Homo sapiens: one gene and its partners. The protein of the gene in region 4 interacts with the protein of the main gene of each other region in a pairwise test. Each region holds a gene or a part of one and is shown on either strand. Other genes may lie near its edges. The genes, in order: GEM, HCK, MYLK and GOPC.

The links.
Region 1: the proteins of GOPC (region 4) and GEM interact in binary tests that used the Homo sapiens proteins (3 or more experiments, as listed by UniProt).
Region 2: the proteins of GOPC (region 4) and HCK interact in binary tests that used the Homo sapiens proteins (3 or more experiments, as listed by UniProt).
Region 3: the proteins of GOPC (region 4) and MYLK interact in binary tests that used the Homo sapiens proteins (3 or more experiments, as listed by UniProt).

The regions. Positions count from the first base shown.
Region 1 is NC_000008.11:94,248,738-94,252,342, reverse strand, and holds the end of GEM (GTP-binding protein GEM), read left to right. Parts: intron 1-119; coding exon 120-324; intron 325-1,577; coding exon of another isoform or gene 1,578-1,591; exon of another isoform or gene 1,592-1,755; coding exon 1,756-2,033; 3' UTR 2,034-3,090; downstream 3,091-3,605. UniProt on the Homo sapiens protein: Could be a regulatory protein, possibly participating in receptor-mediated signal transduction at the plasma membrane. Has guanine nucleotide-binding activity but undetectable intrinsic GTPase activity.
Region 2 is NC_000020.11:32,069,211-32,076,248, reverse strand, and holds part of HCK (tyrosine-protein kinase HCK), read right to left. Parts: intron 6,562-7,038; exon of another isoform or gene 6,498-6,561; intron 4,588-6,497; coding exon 4,467-4,587; intron 2,931-4,466; coding exon 2,888-2,930; intron 2,534-2,887; coding exon 2,431-2,533; intron 1,627-2,430; coding exon 1,528-1,626; intron 1-1,527. UniProt on the Homo sapiens protein: Non-receptor tyrosine-protein kinase found in hematopoietic cells that transmits signals from cell surface receptors and plays an important role in the regulation of innate immune responses, including neutrophil, monocyte, macrophage and mast cell functions, phagocytosis, cell survival and proliferation, cell adhesion and migration.
Region 3 is NC_000003.12:123,727,321-123,734,358, forward strand, and holds part of MYLK (myosin light chain kinase, smooth muscle), read right to left. Parts: intron 6,903-7,038; coding exon 6,367-6,902; intron 5,783-6,366; coding exon 5,576-5,782; intron 1-5,575. UniProt on the Homo sapiens protein: Calcium/calmodulin-dependent myosin light chain kinase implicated in smooth muscle contraction via phosphorylation of myosin light chains (MLC). Also regulates actin-myosin interaction through a non-kinase activity.
Region 4 is NC_000006.12:117,564,477-117,571,514, forward strand, and holds part of GOPC (Golgi-associated PDZ and coiled-coil motif-containing protein), read right to left. Parts: intron 6,480-7,038; coding exon 6,384-6,479; intron 5,383-6,383; exon of another isoform or gene 5,261-5,382; coding exon 5,096-5,260; intron 2,559-5,095; coding exon 2,378-2,558; intron 1-2,377.

The DNA of each region.
Region 1 (3,605 bases), on a different chromosome or scaffold from region 4:
TTTTTCCTATTTTTCCTATCAGCAAGTGTACTTTAGGATACACATATTGTTTCTTTGCAAACTGATGCTTTATTCCCCAGGCCTAACTGAACTCACAGAAGATCTTATTGTTTCATTAGGGGGAAAATGAATGGCTCCATGACCACTGCATGCAGGTCGGGGACGCATACCTGATTGTCTACTCAATCACAGACCGAGCGAGCTTCGAGAAGGCATCTGAGCTGCGAATCCAGCTCCGCAGGGCCCGGCAGACAGAGGACATTCCCATAATTTTGGTTGGCAACAAAAGTGACTTAGTGCGGTGCCGAGAAGTGTCTGTATCAGGTAAGAGGAGCAGAGCCAATACTGTAGAAACAATCGCTGGATCACATGTGTTTTCCTTCAGACACGGGTTCTTCCCTCCTTCCACGAGGCTGGATCTAGGAACTCATTAAGATGCTATATGAAATTTTAGGTGTGTTTCTCAGACTCCTACAGTCCCAGTGGGTCTCCTCCACACTAGTTGTTCTCCCTTGTCCATCTGGTCTACCTGCAGGATACTAATCCTCCCGCTTTTAAGGAGTTTCCTGGAATTCCCAAGAGTACAGGGAAATGAAAGTAGCATCTTCATGCAAGGAGGATAGGGAACTCTGATTTAGGGGAACTGTGAGAAAGAGTTTCATTGAGGAAAAAGAATTCTACTCTGGCTGACTCTGGTTCCTGTGAGCCCTAGAAACACTGTCCTACTCTCCTACTCCCCATCCCTGGCTTCTGAAATTTCATTTGAGGCATCAGTCTGATGGGGTCACATATTCTTCTTCATACTTAGCTCAGGGAAAATCTCTATCTGCTGAGTGGGCAGCCAAGTGCTTTTATAGCCCTTGAGATTTTACTGGCCTAATTCAGATTTGATCCTGGTACAATTATAAAACTAAAATACTACATTGCCGGGCCCTGCTCAGGAGGAAAGACACCTGATAAAGACAATGTACACACTAGTTTGGGAATGTCTTCCTACTAGGACACAACTGTCTACAGTAATCATTTTTTTTCCAAACCAAAACTTGATGCATGGTCATTGAATGCAATGAAATACTTGAAATTGAGACTGTCCCAGAAAAGCTTGTATAATTTAACTGTATTACACATTTGTAAAATTCTCAATTTTTTCCCAAGATATCTCATTATTGCTTTATTTTTATTTTTATTTTAAAAGAGAGGAAAGCTAAGCAGTAGAATTCTTATTTCCAATTCTGGAAACTGGGTCAGGAGAAAGAGTTGAGTATGGGCTTGAGAACTGAGCAGACCTGGCTTCACTGCCACTTACAGGCTGTGTGAACTTCACCTGCAGAGGAGACTCCCCTCGGTTTCTTCATGTATTTGACAGGGATAATAATGTATTTTCCAAGATTGTTGTGGACATTGAAAACAGTGTTTATAAAGAACTTAGCCTTGTTCTTGGCACATTGTAAGTCAGCAGTAAATTAAGGGTATGGCTTTTACTGTTATAACTAATATCACTATATTTGATGAAATGGGACCTTCAGACAGTGAATTTATGGGGGATCAGATCTAAAGCCCATCTCCCTTACTTCCAGGGACCCTCCAGTGAGACATTTTCTATTCATGCCCTGGGAGGGCCCATGCCGCAGCAGCATCCTCTATCCACTGCATATACAGCTGACTTAGTGTTACCTCGAAGAACCATCCAGCTTGACTGTGTGCTATGTGGGACTGTGCTCTGCAGTCCCTCTGACCTCTTTCTTTCCTTCCCAGAAGGGAGAGCCTGTGCAGTGGTGTTTGACTGCAAGTTCATCGAGACCTCTGCAGCTGTCCAGCACAACGTGAAGGAGCTGTTTGAGGGCATTGTGCGACAGGTGCGCCTTCGGCGGGACAGCAAGGAGAAGAATGAACGGCGGCTGGCCTACCAGAAAAGGAAGGAGAGCATGCCCAGGAAAGCCAGGCGCTTCTGGGGCAAGATCGTGGCCAAAAACAACAAGAATATGGCCTTCAAGCTCAAGTCCAAATCCTGCCATGACCTCTCTGTACTCTAGGAACCCAGGGTCACCCAGATGTCCCTTTGATGGCCGTTGTTGAAGGCCATTGGGACCAATAATCTATATTAGATTGAATACTTAAGTTAGATGTGGTTTCCCCCATTGTAGCAGGGAGCTAGCGTATTAGCCTTGTGGGCAACATGATGCATGGGAAATGAAAGATTTTTGTAAAAAGTCAGTATTTATTTCCAGGAAAAGCCTGACCTTGCTATTTGAACACCCAAGACTCTTTAGAGGATGTGTTTGGTGTTCACATGTGTTTCTTCTATTTTGGATAGTAGAGAAGTAAAGCTTACAAAGAATGCCTAGAACAAGAACTTTTCATCATTAAAAATTTTTCCCAGTGTTCTGATATGTGACTTTGAGGCCAATGAGTCATAAACAAATATAAGAAAGCTGTCAATGAGTTTCTTCAAAGGAGGGAAAACTTTCTACGAATCTAAGATCCATGGAGCTAGAATTGTAGAACTAGGCTCATCAGAATCGTGACTATTATTGCTCCATCAAACTGTGAAAAGAAATGATGTGGACCTTGCTGGAAACAAAGGCTTAGCAAACAATTTTTGTTCAATGCCCACCAAGACATATAGAATTGGGAACTGATACATGTGTCCCTTATAGGCTCAAAAATTATATCTTACAATTTCTTATTTAGGGGGAAATTATTTGAATCAGATTCTATTTAGTCAAACCACCTTTTATGTTTTATTATTTTTGAATTCATGGAGCCATCATAAAAATATTTTTAAAATCAGAATTATTGATACCCTGTAGTGCAAAATGTCAATTTTTAATGTATAATCAGAAGTCTGAATTTTTATAAAACATATAGCATAAAAACTTCCAGTACTTTGGTTGACCCTTGTATGTCACAGCTCTGCTCTATTTATTATTATTTTGCAAAATAACCATTTTAACATTTGATAAAGCATATTTATGAACATATTTCTTAATAAGAAAAATATCCATTTTATTACCATTTTCTATCTTTTTCAAAATATGCAAGTTTTTACCTATATGTCTTATAATAAAAGAAATAAAATATTTGAAAAAAGGCATTCTTGATTGATTTTCCTCCCCAAACAAGATGATTAGGATTATTTTTATACAGCCTTTAGAGCAAGCACATTCCAAAGAGACATATGCCTATTGTTTTCTTTCTTTTTCTCACTAGCAATAGCCCAGTCATTATCCGTTTTAAAGGATATCCCTGACATCTCTGCTTTGAAATCACGATTCACGGTAATGCAAAGTTGTTTTTGGCTGATACCGTTGGGAAGTATTTGGGGTCATCTCAATGCTGTTATAGGAAAAGCCAGATTGACCTTTTACTTTGGTCTGGCAAATGCCTGACTGAACAGATGGGCTTCACTTTGCTCCCTGGAGGCTGATGGTCTTAAGCTTGACTAAGGCATTAGAGGAAGTTATAAAGGATTAGGGGGAAATAAAATAAAGGAATCTAGTGATTTCCAGCCTGAGATCTAGCCAGGCAAAGCTTTCACCAAATTCTCCTCTCTGACATTAATATGGCTTGACATTAATCACTTGGCATCTATCCAGCGGCCGTAT
Region 2 (7,038 bases), on a different chromosome or scaffold from region 4:
AGTCAAGTGATTCTCCTGCCTCAGCCTCCCGAGTAGCTGGGACTACAGGCACGCACCACCACACCCAGCTAATTTTTTTTGTATTTTTAGTAGAGATGGGGTTACACCTTGTTGGTCAGGCTGGTCTCGAACTCCTGACCTCAGGTGATCTGCGTGCCTTGGCCTCCCGAAGTGCTGGGATTACAGGTGTGAGCCACCATGCCCAGCCAGAAGGAGGTGGCTTTATAATGGGAAAAGCCTAAGCGTTTTCATTTTTAACAGGCAAGCATCCCAAACCCATAATACCATCTAGCTAGAAAGAGGAGGCAGAAGAGACAAAACAATGGGGACTGTCATTTGTCAACTTTTGATTGGCTGGTTTTTAATGGGATGTATTGCCACCCCACAATGTAGTCATCTTTTTACTCATCAACCTCATCCACCATACAGAGAACATCTCCAGCAGGGAGCCCCATCTAAGTCATCTTCTAACCCTGGAATAGGGAATCAACAGGTATCTGTTGGATGATGGATGGATGGATGGATGGATGGATGGATGGATGAATGGATGGATGGATGGATGGATGACTGAAGTATATTTTTAGAGTCAAGCTAGACACAAGAAGAACCCACAGCCAAGAACGATGGGTTATGGAGAGCTCCTTGAGGGTAGGGATATATCTTATTTGTTTCCACAGCCCCTTAGGCTGGCACAGGGCTTGAAGAGTCATGAGCATGTGCTTGTCGAATGAATCAAATGAGGGATGGGCCAGGTGCAGTGGTTCAGGCCTATAATCCCAGCATTTTGGGAGGCTGAGGCGAGAAGATCACTTGAGCCCAGGAGTTTGAGACCAGCCTGGGCAACACAGAGAGACCCCCTCTCTACCAAAAATACAAAAAAGAAAAAAATTAGCTGGGCATGGTGATGCGCACTTGTAGTCCCAGCTACTTGGGAGGCTGAGGTGGGAGGATCAACTGAGCCCAGGGAGGCTGAGGCTGAAGTGAGCTGTGATGGTGCTACTGCATTCCAGCCTGGGCAACAGAGTGAGACCCTGTCTCAAAACAAAACAAAACAACAAATGAGGGACGACTGGCCAGGTGTGAGCTGTCTCACCTCTCCAGAAACCCTCCTTGGCAAGACCGTGTGCTTCATTCAACAATATTTATTGAGCACTGACTGCATGCCAGCCTGTGCCGAGGATGCAGAAGCAGACAAAGTCCCCGCTCTCACCAGCTCTCTTCCTTGCAGGGCAGGCAGAGAATGCACGTGTAACCAACCAAAGAAACCAGGTCGTTTTGCTAGTAAAACATGTTCAGAAGGGATTAAAACAGGTTTCCACAAGACAGAGTCACAGCTGGGACCCACTTTAGCCTCTCTTCCCTGACTGGAAGGATGAAACCTGAAGGAAGAGAAGGAGCCAGCCAAGCCCAGAGCCCTGGGAAGAGTATGTGCCAGGCAGTGGTACAGTGTGTGCAGACGTCCTGAGTTGCAAACAAGGCTGGCTTTGCTCATGCCTCTTTCTGGAAGGTAGGAAATAGGATACTTACTCCTCTGTCTCCAGAGAGTCAACGCGGGCGACATAGTTGCTTGGGATGTAGCCCTCCTTCCGGGTGGCCAGGGATCGAGCCTTCCACCACTCCCCGGATCTGAGGGACATGAGGGAGTAAAGGTGTTAGGGACAGAAGGATCATTCTCCAGTCTCCTCAAGCTCCCCAGCCTTGACCTAGAAAACTCCCTGCCTCCAGAAAGCCAGTAGGGTGAAGGACAGGGCTGTGACTATGTCAGCCCCAGCATGTGGCCATGATTAGGGTAGGGATCCTTACAACAGTTCCTGCTGTGCATCTGAGGGTCTGGAATCTCCCTGTCCACAGCCCAGAGCCCTGGGTCTCTGGCTCCACTCCTTTTCCCTGGACTTGCAGCTTTGGTCTTATTAGCTATACCCATGGCAGGGTCCTGTGCCTATAGAGACTCAGAATGGTTCAGCTGGGGCTGAGAATAGGGGAGAGTGGGCTTGGGAGTCCGACCAGGCATGACCACTCCCGTTCTCGGGCTTCAGCACATCCTGGACACTATACCCATGATGGTGAAGGCTGTAGGAGATCCGAGGTGGCAAACTCAGAGATCCAAGGATTTCCAAATGCAAGGTCGACTCGATGGGGCCTGGTCCACAGGTAAAGCCGGTGGCTTAATCGCAGGAGCCCTAGAAAGGCTTCCCTGAGAAAGCGTCACCTGTTCATCTCAGGCTGGACGTGCACTCTCAGTAAGTGCACAATCCCCTTCATCCAGGTTGACAGCAAACCCTTCCTCCACTATTGTGATTAGCTTCTCATTAGACATTTATACCCAGGATAAGATAGCCCATCTATCAGGTTCTTTATGGAAGCACAAAAGAGCACATAGTTGAGTAGAGGAGGCAGGTCTGTCTTAGGGGGAGTGGGATGGGGACTCACTCCTCTAGGACCACCATCTGGTCCCCCTTCTGGAAGCTGAGGTCTTCGTGGTGAATGGCCTCGTAATCATACAGGGCAACCACGATGATGTCCTCAGAGCCTGCTGGGAAGGGAGACACACAGAGGGTGAGGTTTCGTCTAAGTGCATCCACAGCCCTTGGTGACCCTCACCCGGCACCTGGAACAGCTCCGCACCCATCGATATGTGGTTCCAAGTATAAGTAGGCGTCTCACCATGCTGGGTGTGATTCTCAAGTTTAAAGCTAAATATGTTTTGTTCATGTTACTAAACAGCGTTCTAGAAACACAATAGCCTGCGCAAAGCACTTCAGAGGAAATTTTGGGGATTCTCGACAGGGGTTTGACTGTTTGGGATTTATGCCTCAAGCTAAGGGAGAACCTAGCGGAGTCCTCTGCAGGACACATGACTCCACTGCATCTGCTCGTAGATACTTACCCTCCCTGATTCCTGGTGTGTTGCTGTTGTGGCTATTAGGCCCCTGTGGGGAAGAAATGAGAGAAGAGAATGAATCTGACCAATGTGTGGGGACCCGTGGAAGGTCTGTGTTGAGAAGGACACCCAAGAGCATCTTACCCTAGCCCTGCATGTCGTGGGAGGAGGCCCACATACGGCAGGGGACATGCCTGGCACCACACGGCACATTAGGGGCAGAGCCAGCAAACAAAATGGTCCAGATTTTTTGTTGTTGCTGTTGTTTGAGATGGAATCTCACTCTGTCACCCAGGCTGGAGTGCAGTGGCGTGATCTCAGCTCACCGAAACCTCCACCTCTCGGGTTCAAGTGATTCTCCTGCCTCAGCCTCCCAAGTAGCTGGGATTACAGGCGCATGCCACCATGCCTGGCTAATTTTGTATTTTTAGTAGAGATGGGGTTTCACCATGTTGGCCCGGCTGGTCTAGAACTCCTGACCTCCCAAAGTGCTGGGATTACAGGAGTGAGCCACTGTGCCCAGCCAGGATCCAGGTTTCTTGAGCTGTGACCTCGGCCTTCGGTCTTGGATGTACCGGGGGATGCTGCTTGACCCCTCCCCTCAACACACAGTGAAGGGGTCGGTCCAGATCAGTGTTTTCCGACTAAGTTTGGAGAAATCACAGGCCCACCAGTGATTTATATTCCATAAATAAAGGCTCTGTTATGTATGTGAAACAATCTAAGTGTCCATGCAAGGGGGAAGTGACACCTAAACTATGGCATTCTAAGCAGCTCTTTTTTTTTTTTTTTTTTTTTTTTTTTAAAGAGACAGGGTCTCCCTGTATTGCCCAGGCTGGAGTGCAGTGGCGTGATCATAGCTCATGCAGTTCGAACTCCTGGGCTCAAGTAATCCTCCTGCCTCAGCCTCCCAAAATGCTGGGAGTACAAGTGTGAGCCACTGCACCTGGCCTGTGTTTTTATTTTCAAGAAGAATGTATTTGTGTGTCACACAATAGGATTATTGTGAGGATTAGGGTGTTAATAACCGTAAAGGCTTACAACAGTGCTGGGTTCATAGTCAGCTTTGTATAAACATAAAAGAAGTTGGTAAATACCTCTCCTAGCATGACTGCTTCTCTTTTTACAACTCTTGCTGTTGTTCCTGCTGCTACTCTTGGTCTTATACTCACGCAATTATGGTTGGTACTATTAGTATGACAATTGTTACTGTATTTTTGCAATGCTGCTGATACTACCATTACATTGTCACTTCAGCTGCTATCATTACTGTTCACTCGTTTCTCAGCACTGCTTTTGCTTCTGCCCAGGCCGGAGGCCTGAGATGCTCACTCACACCTGTTTGGTGGAGCTCAGGCTGAGGGGCCAAGCCTGGGCTGCAGGAAAGAGAGATGACTTCTTTGCCCCTATGCATGCTGGCTGGCGCTGCGTCCCGGAGAGTCGAGTCAGGACACTGTTGGTGGCCAGTCAGCTCCCTTTCACCCCAAGCTCACCCTGCCCAACCTTGGGAAGACAGGAGGCTGTTAGGGCAATGTTGGGGCAGCATCCGTCAGCCCCCAGGGAAACTGGGACCTCCCCTACTCACCGGCTTGATGGTGGATGTGGGATCCGGCACGTACACAGGACAGTGTGGGCTGGCGCTGGTTTCAGTTTTTGAGAATGTATTGCCTCCGACCTGGAGGAACTTGGACTTCATGCACCCCATCCTGCAGCAGACAGAAGGGAGGTGAGCCCCAGTTACCAAGAGCCTCATGCGGGGAAGTCTTCTGATGCTGGCATTCCAGGTCCCCTGCCCCCGGGCTGGCTCCCACTGGCCTTCCCGGTCTTAACTCCCCTGCCAGCTCCATGCACCCTTATCCTCCCCACATGGAACCCACTCCATCCTTGCCACCTCTGGGCTTCCCCATGTCCACGTGCCACAGCACTGGCCCAGGGCTGACAAGCTGTCATTGTCGTGGGTACCAAGGACCAGCGTGATGGATGTTTATTCAGAGGATGGCATGAGGATAACAGAAATGTAACAGGTAGAGCTGTTGGGTGGGCACTGCCAGCTCTCAGGTCAGAAAGCCTCAGCTGATCCTTGGCCCCTCCACCCCACCAGCACCTCACTGACCACTTTCCTGCCCCTACCCACCTCTCAGGTCTTCATCGGCAAAATGGGGACAATAATATGACCTACAGTGGGGAAATACTCAGTGCAGTGTCAGGCTCAGAGCAAACACTACAGAAAAACTGCAGTATTATCAGATGATAAATTGCCATTTTTATATTAAATAACAAGATGAGGTCACATAACATGGCTCAAACAATCTAGTTTGTCAAGGCACCGTATTACTGGTATCAATTTATAAATTGCTTATAACTCCTTCCCTCCCTCCCTCCCTCCCTTCCTTCCTGCTCCCCCTCCTCTTCCTTCCCCCTCCTCCTCCTTCCCCTCCTCCTCCTTCCCCCTCCTCTGTCCTCCCTCCTCCTCCTCTTTCTTCGTCTTCTTCCTCTTCCTCTTCCTCCTCTCTTTCTCTCTGTCTCTCTCTGAGTTGTTTGGTAATTCATTCATCCATTTACACAGCCAAGATTTACTGGGCACTTTTCTAAACTGTGAAGAAGAGAAGCAAGTTCACGCCCTCAGGACCTCAACTGCAGCCGAATGGGAGACAGAGACAATAAACAGGCCAACAAATAAATAACAGGGCAAATTGAGTTAATGAAAAGTGTGAGGACAATAAGAGAGGATGCTGTGGGGAACAACAGGTCTGGCTCTTTTAGGCAGGGCATTTGGGGAAGGCCTGTCAGAGAAAGGGATACAGAACCTGCGGTCTAAATGACACAAAGGAGCCAGTGAGGGGACACTCTGAGGGAAGAGTGTTCCAGGCAGAGGGAACAGCAAATGCAAAGGCCCTGAGGCTGGCATGTGCTTAGAGAGAAGTTGGAGGCACTGAAAGCAGGAGAGTGTAGCTGAAGCTCATGGGCAGGGAAGAGGGTGGTTGTGACAAGGCCACCATATCCTGTAGGGCCAGTAAGGACTTTGGATTTTATTCTAAGGATGATGGAAAGTTTCTGGCAGGAGAATGATGGGATTCAATTTGCACTTTAAATAATCCCACCGGTGGCTGAGTGAGGCGTGGACAGTGGGGAGCAGGGGAGGGAACCCTGTGAGAAATCTGCCAAAATTGTTCAGGTATGAGATGATGGTGGCCCAGGGTAGTGTGGGGGCAGAGAGGAGGTAAGCATTGGACAGGTTTGGGGGACATTTTGGAGGTAGAGCTTGCAGACTTTGCTGCTGTATTGAATTAATTTAAGGATGCTTAAACAAAACACATTTACTCCAAGTAGAGTCAAAACATAATTGTAAAAGTGGAAGAAATGTTTCATTTCTTTTCTCAAAATGTGCACACACATTTGCTGAGAAGGCAGGCTGTGACAACCACATAAGGAAGTGCTTGCTTTTCTCATCTCTGCACAATTGCCATTTTCTTCTAAAGCAGTTAGAACTCAGTTATACTTATCTTGTTAAAATAAACATGTATTTGTGGTTTAAGGAAAAAAACCCCAAACTCCTAGGCTTAGATGAGTTACTTTTAAAAATGAAAAAAGATTCCTTTTATTTACAAGGATTTACCTCTTCTGGTGGGAACTGGGAAAGATTTGCCACCTCAAGACTTGAGCGGTTTTGCTTTGTTTGTCTTTTGGAAATAAAATAAGGAACACATTCAGACTCTTGGAGTGCTGGATCATTAATTTGAAAAATTATCATAATTAAGCACAGATTTATAATGTACTTGCATGCATTTAAAACTGAAACCAGCATCTCTCTTTGAGATAAATGTGTATTACAGTTCTGGGAAATTAAACGGGCATCTTGTGTGACATATATGACATAAAATTATATCACATTTCGTGTGTTTTGGTCAGCATAAAGATGTTCTGGGAAGAGCAGCACTGTGTGAGGTAGGGCAGCTCACTCTACCTCTCTGGGCACCCACTGATCTGCAGCTGTGAGTCTTGTGATTTCCAATCCATGCGCGTTGAGCACCTTGTATGCTTCACTTACGTGATCAATGTACATATTCAAGATGGCCACAGGGTCCCGAGGGAGGGGTCTCAGAAGACCTGTGTTCATTCACAATCCAAGGCCATCTCTGAGAAAGGGTGGCAAGGGT
Region 3 (7,038 bases), on a different chromosome or scaffold from region 4:
CCTTGGCCAGTGTTGAACTCCCTCATTAGAGAAATGCCTTTGGGAGTTATCAAAAAAGGATATAGGCTTTCATGCCAGGTCAGTTTGGGTTAGAAATATGCTCTCTTTTACAAGGCATGTGAACTTGGACAAGTCATTTAACCTTACTAAAGATCAGTATTCTTATCTAGGAAATGGGTATGATTTTCTTGTAAGATTGTTGGGATAACTAAATGAAACAATTCAGGTAGAGCATTTAGCACAAAACCCAGCATAGCACATCCTCAGTGAGTGTTAGCTGTTATTATCAAGTAGAAGCTGTGCATAGAGACTCTACTTGAGGCAAATATAGTCTAGGGATGAAAGAGAGTGGAGGGATAGAGTAGGAGCTGCAGGGGCTCTCAAGTGGAAGGAAGATTTTCTTTCCTTTTTCAGCATAGGGACAACTACAGCATGCTTGTAGGGAGAAAAAAGAGGTCTCTCAATAAGGGAAGGGGAAAGATTGAAGAAGTGGTGAGAGAGTAAATCATTGTTAGATCAGATCCTTGTGAAGATGGGAAGGGACAGAAAGAGAAGTCTTGGGAAGGGAAACAGACAGGTATTCTGTAGTATAGGAAAACAGAAAGAGAGAAGTATGTAGGAGGAGCTAAAAGAACACCCATCAGATGACCTGCTTCATGGTAAACTCATCTGCCAAGAATTAGCTAGGATGTTTAGGAACTGGAGAAGTTTTAGAAAAGCGAGTGTCTTCATCAAGAAGATAGGATGTGGAATGGCAAAGTAAAGACCTCTGAAGATCTACTCCTCCATAAAAGCAACAACAATACTGGCAAAAAGAGTCAAAAGCAACGGTTTCAGAATGCCAGAAATTAACCACAGGCTTGCAACATTCTGAGGAGCATTCAATAAAAACAAACAAACATCCAGGAGTGGTGGCTCAAGTCTTTAATCTCAGCACTTTGGTAGGCCAAGGCAGAAGGACTGCTTGAGCCAGAAGTTTGAAACCAGCCTGGGAAACATAGCAAGACTCTTGTCTCTACCAAAAAAAATAAAATTAAAATATTAGCCAGGCATGATGGCATGTGCCTGTAGTCTCACTTAGTAGGCTGAGGCAGGAGGATTGCTTGAGCCCAAGAGTTTGAGGCTGTAGCAAGCTATGATCACGCCATTGCACTCCAGTCTGGGTGACAGAGCGAGACTCTGTCTCTAAAAAGTAAAAACAATAAACAACAACAAAAAACCCCAAACAACAATACCCTGCCCCTCCACCCTCCCAAACAACAAACAACAACAACAACAACAACAACAACAATAAAACATAGCTGAATCTTGGTAAGAACAGCAAGCTATGTGCTTTTTCACTCTTGTGCCCCTTGCCCCAGCTCTGGGGTAACTCTGAAAACCGACAGTACCTATGGTACTTGTGAAAATCAGCCACTTAGCAAGGGGCAGGATGGGTTCAGAGCTCCTGAAAAACCCCATGCGTAAGAGAATGGTCACTATTTGCCCTGTCTGGCAGCTCCTTCAACGACTCCATTTTCCGGGTTGTCTTTGTTTAATCCGACTCAAAGTTTACTCTGTGTGGATGGCCCTGTCTCCAGGATGTTTGTTAAAATCAATCAGTAGCAATTGTTTAACATTATAGCTACTTGAGACAGCAATATCATTCGGAGCTAACAAGAGCCTGACCAAAAAACTTCAAAGGAAAAACTGGGGAATGAGATGTCCAGGACTTTGAAAAGCTCTGACAGATTCCTGAGAACTGAGGAGCCCAAATGGTTGTGCAGGGCTGTGAGCCTGCCCAGGAAAGATGTAAGAAGGCCCTCCTGTCTCACCTCTGGCTGACTTGGAGCTTTGGTGCAAGCAGAAAGTAAAGGCTAAAGCAGAGCTGTAAACTGCTGGCCGGAGCACTGAAGATGGGCGTAACACACACACAGAGCCCCTTGGCAAAGGCTGGGAAAAGTATTAGTTCAAGGCATTTAAGGAACTCTCCATCCAATCAATTAGGTGATCACTAAACTAACTAAGCAGGGACTTCTGTGGCCGCACATGACAAATAATCCAGCCTTTACAGAATGGGAGAGGATTATTGTAAATCATGTCTGGTAAATGACTTGTATCCAGAATACATAAAGAACTCTTGCAACTCAACAATAAAAAAGTAAATGATGCAATTAAAACATGGGTAAAGTATTTGAATAGGCATTTCTCTGAAGGAGATATACAAATGTCCAATAAGTATATGAAATGATGCTCAAAATCACTAGTCATCAGAGAAATGCAAATCAAAATTGCAGTCAGGCTGGGTGTGGCAGCTCATGCCTGTAAACCCAGCACTTTAGGAGGCTAAAGTGGGAGGACTGTTTGAGCAAGGAGTTCAAGTCCAGCCTGGGCAACATAGTAAGACCTTTTATCTACAAAAATAAACAAAATTAGCTGGGTATAGTGGCATATGCCTGTGGTCCCAGCTACCCAGGAGGCTGAGGTGGGAAGGATCACTTGAGGCTGGGATGTTGAGGCAGCAATGAGCTATTATCACGCCACTGCACTCCAGCCTGGGCAACAGAGTGAGACCCTGTTTCAAAAAAAAAAAAAAAATCATAGTCAGATGATTGTGAATGGCTATAATGAAAAAATAGAAAACAGGCTGAGTGCAGTGGCTCATGCTTATAATCCCAGTGCTTTGGGAGGTTGAAGTGGGAGGATCACTCAAGTCTAGGGGTTTGAGACCAGCCTGGGCAACATAGTGAGACCTCCATCTCTACAAATAATAAAAAAAATTAGCCGAGTGTGGTGGCAAGCACCTTTAGTCCCACCTACTCAGGAGGCGAGGCAGGAGGATTGCTTGAGCCCAGGAGTTCAAGGTTACAGTGAGCTATTATCATGCCACTGCACTCTAGCCCCATTGGCAAAGCAAGACCTCATTTTTTAAAAAAAGCAAGAAACCAAGCAAGCAAGCAAGAAAATAACAAGTATTGGTGAGAATGTGGAAAAACTGCAACACTTGTACATTGCTAGAAGAATGTAAAATGGTGAAAAACAGTTTGTTAGTTCCTCAGAGGGTTAAATCCAGAATTACCTTATGACCCAACAATATATGTGGTCTAAACATCAAAATTGAAAACAGGTATTGAAAACAACTCATACATAAATGTGCATAGCAACACTTTTCACCATAGCTAAAAAGTAGAAACAACCACATGGACCTTAAGTGATGCGTGGATAAACAAAACACTGTATGCTATACCCATACAATGCAATATGATTCAGCCACATGGATGAATGAAGTACTAACACCTGCTACAACACAGATGAACCCTGAAAACATTAAGCTAAGAGAAAGAAGCCAGACACAAAAGGCCACATATTGAATGATTCCATTTAACATCAAATGTTCAGAAGAGGAAAACCCATAGAGACAAAAAGTATATTAGTGGCTATCAGGGGTTGTGGGGATGGGAGAACAGGGAGTGACAGCTAATGGGTAGGATTTTTTTGGGAGGGGTAGTGAAAATGTTCTGAAATCAGATGATGGTGATGGCCACACAACTCTGTGAATATATTAAAAACCACTGAATTGTGTACTTTAAAAGGGTGCTTTTTATGTTATGTGAATTATATCTCAATAAAGCTGTCACACAAAACACAACAAGATAGGGAATCAACCTGAGATGTATTACCCCATGACGCGAACAGGCTAAAAATAGTCTTCTGTGAGACTTAGATGAATTCACAGCAGAAGAAGCCACAGGAGAATCTAGGCCCTCTGGATACGCCATTAATCTGTGGTGGACCTGACACCATATTTCTGTCCCCTGCGCAGGGATAGAGACCTGGCCTGGATGATGAGGCTTGATCTCCTAGACCTGTGAACTCTGCCTACCAGCACTCCCACCTGCAAATGGCATGGATAATATTTCTTGTAAAGGAATTCACGAGGATAGTAAAAATCCCAGTTAAACAACAGTTAAAATCCCAGTGAATCAACAGTATACAGTGAAAAGTAAGATGCCCCATTCCTTCCTGTGAACCCCTAGTTTCCCCTTCCTAGAGGGACTTTTGTGCTCTTCCAGAAATGATTTGTGCACACACAGGCATCTTTTGCATGTGTGTACACAGATCTTTTCTTCCATTTACACATGAGCCTGTACTTTGCTCCTCTCCCTTCCTAGTGCATCTTGAACATGTTTTAGCATCAGTCTACAGGATGTTGTCTGGCATTCTACTATATGGATACATCACTAACTCTTTTTTTCTTTTGGAAATGTGCATTTTGAAAATTTTCAAACACACACAAAAGTAGACAAAGCAGTGTAGTGAATTCCTATGTACCCATCTCTCAACTTTCATTTATATCAATATTATTTCATTGATATCCCTGCCAGTGCTCCCCAAACATGAATTATTTCTAAGTCAAATATAAAAAGCCATATCATTTCACCAGTAAATAACTCAGGATATATCTCTCAAACAGATGAACTTATAAAAAAAAAAGTAACAAGACCACCATCACATCTTAAAACACCACGAATTCCTTTATATTAAATCTTATCAGTGTCCAAATTCTCTTGATGTTCCCATAAAAACTTTTTAAAGATTATCTCAGTCAGGATTGGCAGAAGATTATCAAAAATTATTGTAATTGTTGATGTTACTATATACCTTCTAATATAAGTTTTCTATAGGTTGTCTTTTTTTTTTTTTTTTTGCTTGCAATTTGTATGTGGAAAAAAAATGGGTGAAAGTTATTTGTTCCACAGTTTCCAGCAGCCTGCAATTTGCAGATTCTACTCTTGTGGTATTTGTTAATGCATTTCTCAAGGGTATGGCATGGGCCTGGGGCTTACATATGCATTTAGAGTAAGGGGGAAATTTTATAGAGATAGACAGGTACAAGAATATTTATCATAGGTATGTTATAATAGTGAAAAATGGAAACAATTTAATTATTCAACAAATAACAGCATACCTAAATTAGATACAGCCATTTCATGCAATATTATATGGCTACTAAAAGTCATGCTTTCCAAGAATTGTATAAAAAGATGTTAATATCACATGAGCAAATTAGGATAGAAAGCAGTATACAAATACCACAATGGTAAGTTTGTATAAAAAACATTAAAATATAATTTATTTCTGAGTCATAAGGTTATATATTGTTTAAATTCCCCACAATGAACATGCATTACTTTTATAAACAGACAGTACAATAAACATAAAAGATGTGGGATCCCACATCATCTCACATTACTCTAAACCTGTATATTTAATGAACACTCAGTTCTCTGTGGTTACAAACGTGAGTCACGGCACTATTCAAACAGCTGAGGGACCTAGGAAAGGTAGCTGTCAGTTGGGCTGGGTGTGGGGCCATGCATGTTTATTTTGAGGTGATTCTGATGTGAACTCCTGATTATGAATCACTGGCCTAGAGCAACACACTTGGCCTTGGCATGTGATTGGGGGTGACATTTCTGTCGGGCTGTGCACCAAGGCAGGGGGCTATAGGAGATGAACCATCTGCAGAAGGTGAAGCACCCCATGAATGGTTGTCCCACAGAGAATGCGGGGTGACCTGGAGAAGTGTACTCACTTTCCACTTGGAGGGTCCAGCTACAGGACAGCTGGCCTTGGGCGTTGGAAGCAGTGCAGCTGTATGTCCCACTGTCCCTGGTCCGGGCTTTCAGCAGGCAGAGGTAATGGGAGCCAGCATCTTCATAAACCTCAATGCTGCCTTCCTGTCTCCTCACGGGGGTGCCTTCCAGGAACCAGGCCACTTCAGGCTTTGGAATCCCGGAAACTACAGGGCCAGGTAAAGAACGTGAGCTCCCTATGCCCTGGAGAGCACCCTGTGATTGTGAGGTAGGTGGGGAAGGTGTGAGCTGGAGGAAAGGGCTCAGTTTGGTGTGGAGCTGCCCTCCCACCTCTGAGTCTGCTTCCTCACCCTCAACCACACTCCACAAGACGAAACCTCTTGAGAGAGTCAGGGGCCTTGAGGAGGATGAATACAGCGTGATGGGCAAGGTCTCCAGGTTGGCCAAAGCCAGGCAAGGGGAAGAAAGGGCGGAGGAGACCATGAGGTTTGCTTTTCGATGTTGGCGATAATGAGGGTGTTTCTTCTAGGGTGGTAAGAACTAGGGCCAGGGCCAGTACTCTATCCAAGAGCAAACAACAGGCTACTGTTAGGGGTCTCTCCAGAATAAAGGGCATTTCTACAATGAGTCACTCCTAAGGGGAAGGCCCTTGTAAGGTGGTTTTCTAGGGGAGCTAGTCCAAGAAGATGAGTGGATATAGGTGATGCAGACTAGCTGGGTGCTGAAGGAAGGGAGTGGCCACCAAGGGGCTACATTTTGGCAATCGGTGACCCTAATTACCTCTACTCACCTTCACATCTGAACTTGACAGTTTGATTTTCCTTGACCTCCTGGCTTTGGGGCTTGCTCTCAAATTTGGGGAATGCTGAATCCCTCTGGCCCTCCATGGGGATTCTCCTGTTAGCAGCCTTGCTCACAACATCTTGGCTCCCCAGGCCAGGCTGCCTGGTGGGGAAGGTGGCTGGACGGGGAGGAGCTGGCCTCTTCCTCTCTTCTCCAGAAGGTGATAGGACCCCCAGGCCTGGTGCTCTTGGTTCCGGCTGAACTCTTGCGGCCTGCAGGGTGATGGAGCTGGAAGTCTTCTGAAGGACCGGGGTCTGCGGGGCCGTTCTGGGCGAGTCCTTGCATGACTCCAGCTTGGACTCCCTTGGGGGCTGAGGCTGGCTGTTTGCAGCCCAGGGTGGGGAGCCACCTCTCTGGGGGCTGGAGCAGTTCTTGCTTTTGGCTGCAGCCTCCAGACTGTCCAGCTTCGACTCCTTTGAGATTACATTGGTCACCTCTTTCCTGACATCTGAATTGGTGGCTTTTGTTTCTCTCACAAATGACCTGTGTGGTGGTGAGGGTGGGGGTAGGGTGGGTGAGGAGAGGGGAGAATAGAATGATCATCTGGTTACTCACAAATATTACTCATCACAAGCACGGATTCCAGGGATCACAAAAGCCCACAAGTTAAGGGCAAGTA
Region 4 (7,038 bases):
GAATTCTGATCATCTATAAAATAAATAATAGGCTTATAAATAAATAAGTGTTGACTATATCACCTATTTAGGTGATATATATATCTATAAAGTATAGACGTGTGAAACAATAACCAATAGATACATTTTTTTAAGTGAGTCAGTTAAAAGATATATACACACAAATTTTTAGTTGAGTCACATTTTAAGTGTCTGCAATTTGCATATGTGACAGAGAAGACTTCTAGCCTCAGTTACAAAAAAAAGGAAGAGACAGGCTTTCTAATCCCGACAGAAAACAGCAAGTGTGAAATACAATGAAACCATATGGAGAGCAGCCCAACAATTAAGGTTTTGACATACTGCCACAATAGTTTTGCTCAAGATGCACAGTGAAAACAGTAACTGCTACTGCTATCTTTGTGCAGACAGTTTACAACACACAAGTTTATCAAAAGTGCAACAGTTTATCAGTTCACCATAAAACTCCATGCCAGGAGTTCAACATTTTGGTCTCAGGAGGCCTTTATACTAAGCATTGAGGACTCCAAGAAGCTTCTGTTTATGTGGATTATAGCTACTGATGTTTCCCATATTAGTAGGTAAAATTGAAAAATCTAAAAAAAAATTCATTTCTTTGTTAAAAATGACAATAAATCCAGAAGGTTAATATAAATAACATTTGTCTAATGACAAATAACTCTATGTTCCAAACAAAAAAATTCTAGTTAGAAGAGTAGCATTATTTTACAATTTTACAAATCTCTTCAATGGCTTTGTAGATGATAGCTGTATTTTCATATATCTGCTTCCATTCAATCTATTACAAGTATATGAAGAAAGTTCAGCCTCACACAGATATGTAGTTGCTAAATGGAAGAGTATTTTAACAGCCTTTTCAGATAACTGTCAGTATTGTTCTCTGATATTATACAAAAATTTGACAATGTGGAATTTGAAACCTTATCAGTGAACTTTTCACACTCTGTTATATTAAAATCCATTTGCCTATCTTGCATTTTGAATGGATCTTTTCCCATGCAAAATTTTATAACTTCATTTACTGGTGATTTGAAAAATATTGGACCATGAAGTTATGTAGCAATTCCAAAAGTTGACACATTTCACTTTACTGTATCAAAAAATCACATTCATTAATATCATCATCAATCTCATCAGAAAAGCTTAAGTGTTAGGAAGCTGTCAAGCTCATGGTGATCAACGTATGTTTTACAAAGTTCTAACTTTCACTTGAGAGCTCACATTTTATCACTGGCAATAAATATTATCAGTTGTCTTTCCTGAAGTGATGGACTTTGTTCATTTTTAAGAAAATGGCTTCCAAATAGTCCGAAAATCCATACTTTGTTAGTCATTCATTCAAGTAAAAATTGTCTTCCATGAAGAAAAATGGCTAGTTCAGTCACTTATGTACTTTCCCTTGAAACCAGCATCTTTGTTCAGTGTGCAGAGTAAGTGCTTTATGCATACTTCCCATCTCATCACAAAGAATATTAAAAAGACAGGTACTCAAAGGTCAATATTTAAAAATTAACTGTTACTGCCATTTCATCAAAGATATTTTTAAGCAAAATTGGTATCTTCTTCTTTTACTATGAATGGATGGCAAGGAAGAAAACAATGATTACTAGTACAGTTACTAGTATTAGCAACACTGCCTTGATTAGTGCTAAGGCACCAGCAGTTTTACCCCAATTGCTTTTGCATCAACCAGATACCATCAGTGCAAATATCAACATAGCAAAAAAAGACAAATGATGTCTTAGTATTATTATGAAAAGCTTTGACCTCATGAACTCTGCTAAAATATCTCAGAGACCCTCAGAGATCCACAGATCACAATTTGAGGACCACTGCTCTATGTAAAAGGAAGTGCTAGAGTTTTTCCTTAAAATATGTCTAAATGATAGCAAAGGAACTAAACCAAACATCCCCAAGATAATATAAGTTGATTCTAATAGCAATCATAAGGTGACAGTATACTTCATACTTATTCATAATTAGCTTAAAATTCATTGTGAGAGATGAATTTGCATCAAGACAGACAGACAATGTAGTCTACAAGATAGATCTACTCAAAATAGTATATTGGTCTTTGTTTCAGAGTCTAGAAAAAATTTTATTTATTTTTCAAGGATCACTTGCAGTAGAGTAACTGGTAATGTACTTGTCTTAACAGTCCAAGATGAATATAGAAGAACATATATGGTAAATAAACTGTTAGCATAGTATACAATAAAACAATAAACAAGGGAAAGCTCTTCATTCCTTTGATTTCCTCACAAAACAGTTTTACTGAAGAAATTCTGAGGCCTTCACATTTTAAACATTTAATAATAATGAATATGTTAATAATAATTTTTAGAGTGATTTTTACCTTGTAATACTTTGATTTCCCCACTTGTGTCTTTGCAACTAGCACCAGGGTTACCACCTCCTTCTAACTCATCAAGGTACAAACGGTAACGATGTCCACTCTCATCTTCATACTCTACGTTTTCATCATCAGAATCCACTTCAGGAGCCACATAAACTACTTCAAATTCAATCTCTCCTCTCTAAAACAGGAAATGAAAATGAGAAAGTCAAGTTATTGTAATTGTAATTTAAAAAGGATTTCCAAATTCTTTGTGGGAAGGCTTAGGGGTAGAGAGATCTAAGAGATAGCTGATTTCCAGAAAATAAATAATAAAATTCTAGAATCTAAAGAGGTAGTGAGGCCATCATGTCTGATCAGCCTCGTGAATCCTCTCTACAGTTCCTTTAAACATTATAGTAGCTCTTTCTACTGACCATAGTCTTTTTGCTAATAGATCTAAAATTTAAGAGGATGCTTAATTATTAAATTTATAGAATTTTGGAACAAGTATTCAGTTTTAAAGTTATTTGCTACTTTGTACTGCACACAGCAATTCAGCAAATACATCTAAATAGTCAGATATTAAATAAGGATATCATACAAACCTTTCCTTAACTAATTCAAGAAACCCCTAGAAAATGATTTTTGTACACTGCCATAAGGACATCATATAAATCTTTTCTTAACTAATTCAAGAAACTCCTACAAAATGATTTTTTGTTTCTTATTCAATAGGTCTTGAGTAAGAACTTACACTGAGTACCAGACACAGACATAGTGTTAATCAAGGTATTCTGTCTCGTACTAATAGTAATTACTATATTTATATATTTACTATAAATTATAGCCTTCAATCCCCAGAATAATCCTATTATAGTCTCTTTTACATGAACGAGAAAGCTGAGTGAGTCCTGCAGAAAGCAGATAACTTTCCCTACATAATGAACAAGAATAAAGAAAAACAAAAGTTTGACTCTGAAGTCCTTAATCTTTATATTATGCTAGACTAACTGTGTAATATTTGTACTGTCATTCTTTAACAATGAAACATTCAAGTAAAAAGTTACAGATCATGCCAGGCACAGTGGCTTACACCTGTAATCCCAGCACTTTGGGAGGCTGAGGCAGGTGGATCGCTTGAGCTCAGGAATTCTAGACCAGCCTGGGCAACATGGCAAAACCCATCTCTACAAAAAAAAAAAAAAAAAAAAAAATTAGCTGGCCATGGTGGCAGGCATCTGTAGTCTTAGCTACTCAGGGGGCTGAGGTCGGAGGATCTGTTTGAGCCTGGGAGGTTGAGGCTGCAGTGGTCCGTAATTGTGCCACTGCACTCCAGCCTGGGTGACAAAGTGAGATCCTGGCTCCAAAAAAGAAAAAAATGTTACAGATCGTTTTATGTTAAAAGAAAAATTTCCAAGCTATAATTGTCATTTAATAAGAGACTCCAACCACTACATATAAGTGTGGTGTTGGCAATTCTGAAAACTATGGCTTGCCTTTGCTCAAAAGAAAACACGGCATTTTTGACTGCTACTCACTAAGTTAGTCTCTTTGGTGCTCTTCTTTCCCAGCAGTTTAAGGTTATACCTCAGAATTTTAATATGTGCTTAGTTAGCATTTCCTTAAAACTTATGGCTGCCCATTGATAGCTCCTTCACCAGTTATCCCACTCTTTTGCTACTGGATGACAGTCAAGATGGATTGATAAAACACTAACTTAAGAGAATAGCGTAGCATTCTTAGATCTCTCTTGTCAGCTAATGCTTTAAAAATACCATTTTGCAGAAAGAGACAGATGATGCAGTGGTCTTCAGCAAAGTTTTAGATGACAGAATTAGATCTGTGAGTAGCTGTCATGGAGACACAGATTTCAGGCTTAATATGAGAAAAAGCTTTCTAAAAATCAGTACTGTATTACAATGGAATGGACTGGTTGATATCAGCAAGTCTTCCCTGTAATGTAATTATTGAAGTAGTGATGTTGCAAAGATTTATGCATCATATAGAATTGAACCAATGAACAATATTCACTTTCAACTCTGAGATGCAATTCTACAGAGGCATACCACACTGATAATCCAAGAAACATCTCAATGTACTACCAATGCCTCTAATTCCCTCAACTCTATTCTTGAAAGAAATAAAATAAAACAACATTTTAAGTACAACTGTATGACAAATATGACTCCTGAGTATGAATCTCAATTCTATAATTTATTTGCTTGGCAACTTTGAGTAAATCCTTTCATCGCTAAGAACTTTAGTTTACTCATTTTAAGAGAGTTGGGCTAGATAGTTTCTATGTGTGATTTCAATTTTAATATTCCATGACTAAAATCAATCTACTTCTAGCACTGTCTTTTCTGTAATACCTTATATATAGTGTTCTAGGCATTAAGGATGTTGTTTTTTCAGTCTCAGGTCCTGTTCTGAGTACTTTATATGTATTAACATACTTAATCCTCACAGCTTTCTTTCAATCCCTCCCACACAGGTGAGGACACTGAGGGACAGAGGACTTAAGTAACTTGCTCAAAGTTATGAAGTAAACAAAATGGAATGGTCCATTTTCAGTAAATCTGACTGAATGTCAGCTATAAAAGCATTAAATCAAAGGAAACAAGAACTATGTGTAAACACTTTACTACTTTAGAAACTTCGTAGGGAAGTATACAGTGTTCAATAGATTCATAACCAATTGATAGATCCAGTTCTAATTACATGAAGGGAATTTACCTGCTGAGAAAGAATAGTTACAGCTTCTTTATGCTTTGTGTCCCTTAGGTTAACTCCGTTGACTGCCAAAATAGCATCCCCAACGTGCAGCCCTCCGCATCTATCAGCAGGTTGCCCCGGATGGATCTCAGAGATGAGGATTGGAACACCATGTTCTTTCCCACCCTAACAACAACAAAGGGCAGTAAATTAAAGTACTCTTTGTAAGGTACAGTTACCGATTAATCTAGAGATAAAATATTTTCTTAAAAATATATTTCATTAAACACCTATGCTGTCTCTATAAATGCTGGGTAAAATTTTATTTGCTACTTAAGTAATGGTAAAAATTATCAGAGTATTGAACAGAAATTGGCTAAATTCTTAAATTAAAAAAAACTTATGTGTTAGTACTCCATAGCACCATTACATTTTATCAAGTCTAAATCACTACGAATGACAAGACCAATTATTTTAGGTGCCACAAAAATAATTTTAAGATTATAAGATAAATTTCAATTTCAGAGAAGTTAAAATATGAAAATATATGCAATGTAGAATTGAAAAAATGCAGTATTTGGTACCTATCACTCTCTAGCTTATATCATTGTTGCGTGTGTGTAGGGGTGTGTGTGTGTGTCTTATTTGTCCTGCTAAAATGTATGCTCTTTGAAGGCAGCACATAAAAAAAAAAAAGGTAAGTATTCAAGAAATATAGATTAGATGAGCTTTTTATTATAAGAAACATTTCTACATTAAGCAATACTAAAAAAACAAATGATCTTGCTCAGTGCCTAAGTATTACCAAATGAAAATTAAAGCCACCTTATTCATTAAAGCACTGAGATGACAACAAAATGACTCCTAAAGGCATCGAATTTAAAAAAAAGAATATATAACATTTGGACCCAAGAGCCAGTGAAATCTGACAGCTAATAAATGAGGCAAGAGAAAGATACACGTACTCCGAGAGAGAACAATACAATCTGAAGCCATTTAACATAGAAGAAAACAGCCACGTCTATTCCCAAGGGCTCCTAGAGGCATCACAGTATATGGCACAGAACTATTAAGTGAATCATAATAAAAATGTTAAACTATGCTTACTAAAGGTACACTTAATAGTTGCTAGGAATATTTATTTCTTAAAAAAATATTTACACAAAAGCAAACATTTATCCCCATGGGGATAAATTTTAGTTATTTAAAAAATATATCCAGAATATTCTGTTCCCCAGTGATGTCCAACAAAGGAGCATGATTATACTAGATAACTGTAGAAAATGATACTGGAAGTACTACTTCTTACTGTAATTGAAATGCCAAGGCCTTCATGATCTTCCTTAAGGAGGAGAACTTTTCTAATTGGACCAACACCTTGGCTTTTCTTTAGGGAATCTTGATCCTTATTGGGAGGAAAAAAGAAGAAAAAGTAGTATCATTTAAATAGCATACCAAATAGAGTAAACTCATACTATATAACTTGCTTTTAGAAATCTGTATTAACTTCCTGGAATGGATAAACAGTATAGGGTTAAGAAAGTAACAGATAAAATGGAAAAATGAAAATAGCTATTCTGTTGATGCAAAATTTATAGATGATATTCTCACCCTTTTGCCAATAATGTTTAAAATATTGATACATCTCTTTTTAAATTGTAGGGCATTATAAAAGAAATGATTTCCAGGAATTAATTGAGGAACAAATATCCTCAAAAAATAAAAGTGTCTATCTTCACTGGATATCTTTAAGATATACATTCATTTTAGCTGAGTTGTAGAGTTGAAAAACAAATTTCCAATTGGACCATTAATTACTTATACATTCCTTGGTGCTCTGGAGTCTACCTCTTAAATAAAGGGCCTTGATCCACTAATAATCTTTTCTCTGGTACCCTTACTCTTTCTGTCTCTACTAAGCTGTTTTCCTACTCAGCAGATAAATGAATCACAAGCCTCTTCCA